Linked DNA regions of Homo sapiens. The protein of the gene in region 3 purifies or fractionates together with the protein of the main gene of each other region. This does not show direct contact. Each region holds a gene or a part of one and is shown on either strand. Other genes may lie near its edges.

What was found.
Region 1: the proteins of DIRAS3 (region 3) and DCAF10 purify together in Homo sapiens (affinity purification with mass spectrometry; 4 studies listed by BioGRID and IntAct, with this or other methods). This does not show direct contact.
Region 2: the proteins of DIRAS3 (region 3) and NAP1L1 purify together in Homo sapiens (affinity purification with mass spectrometry; one large-scale study listed by BioGRID and IntAct). This does not show direct contact.

The regions. Positions count from the first base shown.
Region 1 is NC_000009.12:37,807,297-37,810,796, reverse strand, and holds part of DCAF10 (DDB1- and CUL4-associated factor 10), read right to left. Parts: intron 1-3,500. UniProt on the Homo sapiens protein: May function as a substrate receptor for CUL4-DDB1 E3 ubiquitin-protein ligase complex.
Region 2 is NC_000012.12:76,074,686-76,078,185, forward strand, and holds part of NAP1L1 (nucleosome assembly protein 1-like 1), read right to left. Parts: intron 1-3,500. UniProt on the Homo sapiens protein: Histone chaperone that plays a role in the nuclear import of H2A-H2B and nucleosome assembly.
Region 3 is NC_000001.11:68,047,828-68,051,991, forward strand, and holds the start of DIRAS3 (GTP-binding protein Di-Ras3 precursor), read right to left. Parts: upstream 2,801-4,164; 5' UTR 2,721-2,800; intron 1-2,720.

The DNA.
Region 1 (3,500 bases), on a different chromosome or scaffold from region 3:
TCCCACCCATGAGTCCATTAGAAATACCATTCAGAGGCCAGGCGCAGTGGCTCAAGCCTGTAATCCCAGCACTTTGGGAGGCCGAGGCAGACAGATCACCTGAGGTCAGGAGGTCGAGACCAGCCTGACCAACATGGAGAAAGCCCGTTTCTACTAAAAATACAAAAATTAGCCGGGCGTGGTGGCAGGCGCCTATAATCCTAGCTAATCCAGAGACTGAGGCAGGAGAATCGCTTGAACCCGGGAGGCAGAGGTTGCAATGAGCCAAGATTGCGCCATTGCGCTCCAGCCTGGGCAACAACAGTGAATGAAACTCTGTCTCAAAAAAAAAAAGAAAGAAAGAAAGAAAGAAATACCATTCAGCCTCATTGCTGCTGCTGCTTTTGAGATTGACAGATGTCTCTCAGAGAAGCGAGCTCAAATGCTGGGCTCACATCACTGGCTTTCCTATTTTTTAGAACTTGACCCTGCAATTTCTTCATTTCCCTGATAATGCTCTAATCCCCTCACACATAAGCTTTCTATATCTTACATTAAATATTTAATATTTTCTCTAGCTTTTCTGATTATTCTCAGTTGGAAGTTTGGTCCAAACAATCTACCTCTTGCATATAAAATTGTCCCCCCAACTTTTTTTTTTTTTTAAGATGGAGTTTCGCTCTCGTTGCCCAGGCTGGAGTGCAGTGGCGCAATCTCAGCTCACTGCAACCTCCGCCTCCCAGGTTCAAGTGATTCTCCTGTCTCAGCCTCCTGAGTGGCTGGGATTACAGGCGTTTGCCACCATGCCCAGCTACTTTTTTGTATTTTTAGTAGAGATGGGGTTTCACCATGTTAGCCAGGCTGGTCTCAAACTCCTGACCTCAGGTGATCCAGCCGCCTTGGCCTCCCAAAATGCTGGGATTACAGGCGTGAGCCACCGCGCACGGCCGCCCCGCTCCCCCTAACCCTTTTATTTTTTTAATTTGAGACAGAGTTTCGCTCTTTTGCCCAGGCTGGAGTGAAGTGGCACAGTCTTGGCTCACTGCAACCTCCGCCCCTCGGGTTCAAGCGATTCTCCTGCCTCAGCCTCCGGAGTAGCCGGGATTATAGGCGCCCACCACCATGCCTGGCTAATTTTTTTATTTTGAGTAGAGTCAGGGCTTCGCCTGTTAGCCAGGCTGGTCTCGAACTCCTGACCTCAGGTGATCCACCCGCCTCGGCCTCCCAAAGTGCTAGGATTACAGGTGTGAGCCACTGTGCCGACCTATGTCCCTCTTTTTATTCTGAATATTATCTGTGCATTTTCTTAGTACCATGGATGTTTTTCATTTTTATAAGTGTTTTCAAAGACAAAACTTTGTCCCTATTCAGTATTTCTGATGGTTTTTAAAATTTCACTAATTTCTACCTTTTTTTTTTTTTTACTATATTTCCTTCTGCTCTCTTTAGATTGATTTTCCTATTATTTGCAGATAACTTTGCTATTCTCTTTCATGAGATGAATACTTAGCTCATTAATTTTCCTTATCAGTTTATTAAAGACTATAATTTTCCTACTAAGTACAGCTTTACTTGTATCCCACAAGTTTTGAGACATATGATTTCATTATCATTTAGTTCTGAACATTTCTAATTTCCATTATAATTTCCCCTTTGACCCATGAATTTATCAATTCTTTTTGAAAATGAATGAGACTTTTCTAGTTATCTTTTTTTTTTTTTTTCTTTGAGACAGAGTCTCATTCTGTCACCCAGGCTAGAATGCAGTGGCAACCTCAAACTCTGAAGCTCAAGCAGTCCTCCTGCCTCACCTTCCTGGGTAGCTAGGACCACAGGCACATGCCACCACACCAGGCTAATTTTTAAATTTTTGTAGACAGTCTTTCTTCCTTGCCCAGGCTGGTCTTGAACTCCTGCCAGATCCTCCCACCTCAGTTTTCCAAAGTGCTGGGATTACAAGTGTGACCCACTGTGCCAGGTCTCTGGTTATCTTTTTAATTATACTTGTCTCTTGACTTCCAAAAATATAAAATATATAATATATATTATATAAATATATATTTTATGTATGTATTTTTATATATTTTTATATATAAATTTTATATATAAATATAAATATATAAATATATATTTATATTTTATATTATATAATATATTTATATTTTATATTATATATTTTTATATTATATTATATAAATATATTATATTTTTATATTATATTATATAAATATATTTTATATTATATATTATGTATTATATATTTTATATATTACATATATTATATATTTATATAATATATTATATAAATATATGTTTTATATATTTATATATTATATAAATATATATTTTATATTATATATAATATACTTTTACATAATATAATATATATATTTTTCTTGAGACAGGGTCTCATTCTGTCGCCCAGGCTGTCGCCCAGGCTGGAGTGCAGTGGCGCGATTTTGGCTCACTGCAACCTCTGCTTCCGGGGTTCAAGTGATCCTCCCACCTCAGCCTCCTGAGTAGCTAGGACTATAGGCATGAGCCCCACAACTGGCTAATTTTTGTATTTTTTGTAAGGATGGTCTGGAACTCCCAGGCTCAAGTGATCCACCTGCCTCAGCCTCCCAAAGTGTTGGGATCACAGGTATGAACCACCATGCCAGCTAGTTATCTTTTTATTTACTTCTAGTGATCACATTGTGGTGAGAAACTGTATTCGGTATGATACCAATCTTTTGAAACTTGTGGTCTCATATGTGAAAATTTTATAACTGTTCCTTGTGTGTTTGAAAAATATAAGGATGAAGCGGCTGTTACATACAGTTAAGTGTGATATTCAAAGAGGTTAAAAATTCAGGCCAGGCACAGTGGTTCACACTTATAATCCCAGCTCTTTGGGAGGCTGAGGTGGGTGGATCACCTGAGGTCAGGAGTTCAAGACCAGCCTGACTAACATGGTGAAACCTCATCTCTACTAAAAATACAAAATTAGCCGAGCGTGGTGGTGCATGCCTGTAATCCCGGCTACTTGGGAGGCTGAGGCAGGAGAATTGCTTGAACCTGGGAGCTGGAGGTTGCATTCAGGCAAGATCGCGCCATTGCAGTCCAGCCTGGACAACAAGAGTGAAACTCTGTCTCAAAAAAAAAAAAAAAAAAAAAGAAAAGAAAAGAAAATTCAGTGGTAATATAAATTAACATAAATAAAATTTAAAAACATTTTCTAAATAAATTAACCTATATAGATTATAAAAATGCTCACCAGGTGATAACCATTGTAGCTCAAATTGTTCATTAAATCATTCTAGTAATTTTCAATCATTTATTAATTTTTGGAAATTGTAGCCATAATCTTTTATTTGACACAGATGCCCTTGTCTGAACCATGAATTGACATAGGAAACTAGATAAAGCCCTTCTAAGAATGTCCACATTAAATTTATAGTCATTAAATAACTTGTAGTCATGATACGTTAAAAAAAATCACACTTTTTAAAATTTTTTGTAGAGACAAGGTCTCCCTA
Region 2 (3,500 bases), on a different chromosome or scaffold from region 3:
TTTATGTAATTCATGTTTAAGAAAACCAAAATCTGATGCCTACTGTACTCACTATGCCCTCTGGATATCTTTTTAAAAGACTTAATCCCTGGATCAAATAGCCATTTAGACTATTTCAAAAGCTCTAGGTCCCAATCTTAATGTTAGGTAAGCCTTCCCTATCTCTCCAAATGTACATGTACCTCATGTTAGATAACTGACAACCACCAACCTCCAGCTTCCCCTAGATATGCTAGGGACATTGTCAAGACTTGTGGTTACCAGACCTGAGTAAGTTTACTGTTAAGACTCACCAGAGGATATCCTAAGTTCCTTCTCACTAAAAGATTAGTATGAACCTGGAGAATACTGCTTTTGGAAAAACAAATCTTAAAGCAGATGTGTTATATCCAGGCAGAAAAAAATGGTAGAATGCCACAGGTAATCTACAGATTACCAAAAAAAACTAAACCAAGTTTAGATAGAATCCATGTTAAAATCAAGTTTATCTTAGCCAGGCACAGTGGCACGAGCCTGTAATCCCAGCTGCCCAAGAGCCTGTAATCCCAGCTGCCCAAGAGACAGGAAGATCTTTTGAGCACAGGAGTTCAAGGCCTGCCTGGGAAATACAGCAAGACCCTGTCTCTAAAAAAATTATGAATAAATAGAATCAAGTTATCTGGTAAAAATTAAAATCTTAATACATATTTAATTCACAAAATCCTGCATGTGTTTACTTTCATAGCAACGTATTATGCCTATGAACAAAGAGTTAAAAATGGAAAACATCCTGATTTTAGCAGTTAAGTGCTAATATTTGGGGGAAACATTATTACTGACCTAGTATCTATCCTTTAGAGTAATTATAAAGAAAATTATTCTTCCTAATGTATCTAACTCTGTAAATATTTTGTATTTGTTATAAATAATTCCTAATAGTACTGATGAATTTTTCTAGTGATGCTGGGTAATGAGTCAGCATTTACAAAGTGTTTAGCAATTATGAATATTAATCAAAAATAAGAAAAATACTGAACTCTGACATCAAAGAAATCCAAGTAGGATTCCAGTTTGTCTACCACATCATCAATAACTTCTTTTTAATACAGGGAAACCTGTAGTGCACATGCATCCTTATTTCCAGCTAGTGTTCCCGTATCTTTTCTGGAGAGCAACCTGACAATAGGAATATCAAAAGCCTTAAACATGTCCATCTCAGCCAGGCACCATGGCTCACACCTGCAATCCCAGCACTTTGGGAGGCCGAAGCAGAAGGACCGCTTGAGGCCAGGAGTTCAAGACAAGCCTTGGCAACACAATGAGACACTGTCTCTTAAAAACATAAAAATTAAAAAAACAAAATATGTCCATCTCCAGATTTATTCACTTATGAGCTCTACCATGAAAAAATTATAAAGAATCTAATGCCTTTGCTTTCCATGTTCACCTAGAAGGTTCTTCCACAGCTCTGAACAAGTCCTGCACATCCTTTGGCTCTCATTTCAAAGTTTCACTCCCCAGAGATGCTTTCTCCAACCTGCACATTCCGGTTAAGTAAGATTTCTTGGTTGTACACACACTCCTATAAAGCTTTCTTTTCTTTCCACCATAAGATGTCTCAGTCTGTAATTATAAATTAGTTTGACCTATGGTCTGTCTCTCCCAACTGACAAAATTCATGATTACAGGAATTAAATCTGATCTTGACAATCATAGCGTTGTCTTCTTTGGGGTAGCACACAAAGCTTATTATAAACTTAGTACTATAATGGAATATGCAAAAATGGAATGCTTTGCAGTCACAAATGAAACAGATCTGAGTTGATATGAAGGAACACTAAAGCAAGGTATAGGATGTATGCCGAAATCCCCTTTGGATATGGAAATATATATATATATATATATATATATATATATATATATATATATCTCCACTCATATACGCACATACTTTAATACAAATAAACCCTTTCTGAAAACAAACACCAAAAACCTAACCAGAGTAACCTAATGAGAAAGAAGGGACTGGGGGTAATGAGAACTAATTTCCCATTCACCATTACAGTCATGTGTGGATTATATGTTCTGAGAAATGTGTCTCTGGGTGATTGTATTGTTGTTCAAACATCAGAGTATACTTACACAAACCTAGATGGTATAGCCTACTACGCACCTAGGCTATGATATAGACTATTGCTCCCAGGCTACACACCTATACAGCATGTGACTGTATTGAATACCATAGGCAACTTTAATATAATGGCTAAGTATTTATGTGGTGCATGACTGCATTTGGTTTTCCAACACACAGATTTATATAATAATTTCCAATACACAAATTTATTCTGAGATTTGCTAGGTTTAATATATAGTGTCTACTAAACCCAGCAATTGTCAAAAACAGAAACAAAACCTAAAACTTCCAAATTTAAATTTTTGTAACATTTTAATGTGTTCACAGAATGGCTACACTGCTAACCTCAATGTCCATTTGCAGCATTACATTTACAGTTTAAATTCTTAAAATGAAACTTTAGTAAAGAGGATCCAAGACAGAACATTTACAGAACATTAACAGGAGGCATTTACTCCTCCAGAGAAGGCTGCTCTAACCTGCCCATTCTGGCTACATTGTATTTCTTGGTTGTAAGATAGACCTAATTTTCTAGTCAGTTGTAGTCAGATCATTTGGGCTGACATCAACTTTGTAGCAATCTACAAACTAAGACAAACAACTTCTGGCTCTATTTCATCATCTATATAAAGCAGAAAAACATCTGAGGAAGTGGGACCCAAAAATCTGCATTCTAAACAAGAAACTCAGCTTCTGAGAGGTGGTTCTCAGGTAGACCACATTGAGAAACACAAGTTTAGGTTAATACCTGTATTAATATTTTACTGCAGTTGACATTAAATAAAATCAGTGAGAATCTTATTTGTTATACATTAAATTGCATTCCAAGATCTCTGTGAAAAACTTTCATTCCTGAAAGCGACAAACTAGATTATGCAGATCAATTCTACCAATGAAAAATATGGCCGGACGCAGTGGCTCACGCCTGTAATCCTAGCACTTTGAAAGTCCAAGGCAGGCGAATTGCCTGAGCTTAGGAGTTAGAGACCAGCCTGGGCAAAATGGTGAAACCCAGTCTCTACTAAAATACAAAAAATTAGCCGGGCGTGGTTGCACACACCTGTAGTCCCAGCTACTCAGGAGGCTGAGGCAGGAGAATTGCTTGAACCCAGAGGAGGAGGCTGCAGTGAGCCGAGATCACACCGCTGCACTCCAGCTTGGGTAAGAGCAAGACCCTGTCTCAAAAAAAAAAAAAAAAAAAAAGGAAAAGAATTAAAAGTACAGATGTTTTTTAACAAAAACATTTTGTTAAAAATCTTAAAAGCACTGAAATGCTAACAAGATAGTAAGGAATCACCAGCCCAAAACTGAGGGCAAAACAGGAGCAGAAGGAAGGCACTTTTGCACTGAGGTCAACTGCCAATTATCAGCAACGTGAACTTTGGTT
Region 3 (4,164 bases):
CAGTACAGGAGAAAGGAGGGGGTTTTTGGTATCAGTGGTGTGGGATGTAGAGAGGGGAGGTACCTGCAGTCAGTGCAGCCCCAGAAGAGGCATGGGGAGCACCTTTGCTCTGAGCATGCTGTCACCATGTGCCACCAAGAGCTGAGGGAGGGGTCTTAGTTCATGAATCCTTAGTCACAATGACAGTGGAGTAAAAAAAAAAAAAAAAAAAAAAAAAAAAAAATATATATATATATATATATATATATATATATATGAACCTTTCTCTTCAGGATCTAATCTCTGATTAGAAAAGATTGTAAATATTGAATGAGTTTTTCTACAGAACAGTGGTTTTTCTTTTGCCATGGCTACTACCTTTAACAAAGTACTTTTAATTCAGCCTTATGGAAATAGAGAAAATTTCAGGATTTGAACAGTCAATGAACTTTTTGAGTTCAGGAATAAACATAGTAGATTAGGTTTGTAAGAAACTTTTCTCACAGGTATATCCTAAATACCAGACAGCTGCCCAGGGGGACTGCTTCAGAAGCATCCTAGGTCAGATGGAAAAAGTTCTAGGCACCATGCAGACAGACCACATAGCTGGCCTCTGGACAGAGGTAGGAATAGTACAAGGCAATGTCATTCCTGTGGCACTAGGTATAGAAATTTATACATGTTTCTAGGTGATGATGGTCCTTAAAATGCACTTCTCTTCAGGTACAGCTATGATTGTGTCATGTACAATACCAGAAAGAGAAGAGAGGCTTTTTGTGAATAGCACACTCCCTATATAAACTAGCCTGTCTTGCTGGCTGCGTAGTTGAACACATACTCTCCCAGTACTGGGGAAAAGGACCCTTTTTAGAATGTGCAAGTCCCATGAGAGAGTAATATGTCCATATTAGAGTTTTGGTGGTGGTTTTTTTTTTTTTGTTTTTTTTTTTTGAGTCAGGGTCTTGCTCTGTCCCTCAGGTTGGAGTGCAGTCATGCGATCATGACTCACTGCAGCCTCAACCTCCTGGGATCAATCAATCCTCTCACCTCAGCCTCCCGAGTAGCTGGGACTACAGGCATGTGACACCATGCCCAGCTAATTTTCTTATTTTTTGTAGGGACAGGGTTTTGCTATGTTGTCCAGGCTGGTCTTGAACTCCTGTGTTCAAGTGATCCTCCTGCATCAGCCTCCCAAAGTGTTGGGATTACAGGTGTGACACAACATACCCACCCCATATTAGAGTTTTCATTTGAAAAAAAAAAATGTTGTTGCTGGTTGTTATATCTTCAGACTTAACTTGCTTCTAATTCTAGTCTGGCTTCTTTAAGATAGTGTGATTCTAAGAGTGTTCTAAACTTAAGTGGCAAAATTTAAGTAGATGATTTTATATTCTTGATTAAAGGGGGCCAGGGAGGTTAATACAGTAAATATTTGAAATTGATATAAAATAAATACATACATATATCTAAACCATTCATTTTTGCAGCTTTCAGGTAAAATCTAGCACTTTATTCCAGTCTATGAGATGTGGTTAGTTGATATCATCTAATATTAAGTAATGACATCAGCTATCCAAATCCTGGGCACAATTCCTTTAGCAATGATGACCTTTAATAGAATTTAGCTTAAAAAACTAGGAGATTTCTGCTACAGTGATGCAATCTTTCACATCTTATTTATTAACAAAAATCAACAATCCAGCTTTCCTTAGGTCTTCACGCACTAAGAGTTCTCTAGTCACAGAAATCCTAGCCTTGTCTGCACTCTCCACAACTATTATAAACTCCATGTTAGTATCAAGAGTTCCAGTAAAGACCAAATATCTCTTGGCCACCAACATCCCACATTAGGAAATGTGCATTACTAATTATTCTGTTTTACATTACTTCCTGCTCTAGGGGATGTATGTACAAATTCATTCATAGAAAATTGGTAAAGCAGCCGGGCGCATTGGCTCATGCCTGTAATTCCAGCACTTTGGGAAGTCAAGGTGGGAGGATCGCTTAAGCACAGGAGTTCAAGACTAGCCTGGGTAACATAGGGAGACCGCCGTCTCTATCAAAAAGAAAATAAAAGAAAAAAAATTGGTAAAGGACACACGTGATAACTGAAGTTTCCAGATGTGAAGAGAATTCTCATTCTCAGGCAGTGGACCCCCCCCCCCACTCCCCTCCACACTCCTTCCACCTTCCCAGGCCACCTGGCCTCAGGCTGAGGGGGAGGTGAAAGTTTCCAGGAACCAGAGGGCGTCCAAACCCAGCGGCCGTGCGGAGCTCAAGGTCCCGCCGCTGCTGTTGCGGCACCAGCCTGGCTCATGGACATCACCACGCACCTGCAAGGTCAGGTTTCTCTCTGGTGGCTGTGGCGGCTGCTACCCTCCTCGCCCATTTCAATCTTACTTTCACACTACATGACTCCACTATTACTTCCTGAACACTAGCTACCTACGCAGCTGTAATAGTGGACACTGTGTCAACCTTTAAGCTCGCACACTTATCAAACCTCGTTCTTCTATATTAAAAAGTGCTAGCTTCCCAACGGGACTATCCAAAGTGCAGTTGCAGGACCTGCCAGGAGCCCGCAGGGCTGCGGGTGGTTCTTGCGTAATCGCGCCAAGAAAGACCTGGTTCCAGTTTCAGGGACAACTCGCCCATAAACTTCTACTGCGCAACAGCATCTGCTGCTTTGTCTGACACTTGTTGTTTTCAAGTACCCCTAAAAAAGCGAAAGAAAGACTTACCTTTCTCGGAGGCACGAACCAAGCAGCCTAGAAGACAAATGCGCTGCTCGGAGAGACTGCCGCGGCAACCAACTGGACACCCCAAGAGCTCACTCCTCCGCGGTTTTATATTCCGACTTGCGCACAGGAGCGGGGTGCGGGGGCGCAGGGAGTGTGGGTAACAGGCATAGATTCCGCTTGCGCAATACGTGGTAAGAAACCAGCTGTGAGGGGCTGGCCCAACGCAGAGCGGCGCGAGGTCCGCTTGGCATCTACAACAATCGAGGGGCTAGTCCAGAAGTTCAAGGCGGGGTTACAGGTTGGGGAGGAACTGTTAAACTGTGGACTTTTTCTCACCTGTTGGAATAAGCTTCAGGCAAAACTTTGCCAACAAAAACCGGTCCAACTGATTTTAGACGAAAGTCCAAAAGCAGTTTAATGCAGGACAGATAATCTTTTCCACAAATGATACTGAAAAGACAGGACATCTATAGATTCCCCCCCGCCAAAAATAACCCTTACATAAAAATTAAGTGGCTAGATATAACTGTGACGAGTAAAATTACAAAACGGTTTTAAAAAACAACAAACTATTGTCTAAGGCTAGGCAAAAGGTTCTTAAATTGACATTAGTGGCAAGACCGGTAAAAAGAAATGTTGATGAATTAGACTCCATAAATTTAAAACTTTTGCTTTGTGAAAGACCCTGTAACGATACTGAAAAGGTTTACCTAGGAGAAAATATTTACAAGCCATATATCTGGCATACAACCAGTATCTAGAATATGTAAATAACTCAAAAATCAATTATTTTTAAAAATCCAATTAGAAAATAGTCAGAAGACATAAACAGACACTTCACTGAAGATATGCAGATGGCAAATAACCATATGAAAACCTTTAATGTCATTAGCCATTAGAGAAATGGGAATACGAGGCTTTCGTTGTTCTTCGCCTCCCACTAGGGCGGGTTGAGGGTCTGGCTCCAGTAGCCCCGGGTGCCTCTCACTCCTTGGGCGCAATGCTACTATCCTGGCAGAACCCTCGCCGAACCCTCGCAGGACGCCCCATCGGGTCCGCCAGCGGCTAGGAAGCCCGATTGTGTCGTTCCTTTTTCCCTCTGCGCCTCCCACCGCCAGTCCCTTTTCCAAATGCGCCTGCGTCTGCCCTCCACATCTCCGAGCTCCGTCTGGCTTCTTTCTCCCTTGCCTGTGAGCGCCTGGCGGCGGATGCATTGAAAGCTGCGCACCACCGCCTACCGAGCGTTTTGGGGAGTGTGTGGAAGTTGTTGGCAGCAGGTTTTGACAGCAGTACCCTATGGGCCTAGTCGTTGACGGTAGCACCTGGTTTTGTGTGCCCCAGCCAGCTGAGGCCAGGGTGTGTGGTGTGGGCCACTGGTACTGCTCTTCTGCCACTATAATCCCTCCCCCTACCAGGTACCTGGTGCGTAGAAGTCTAAAGACCT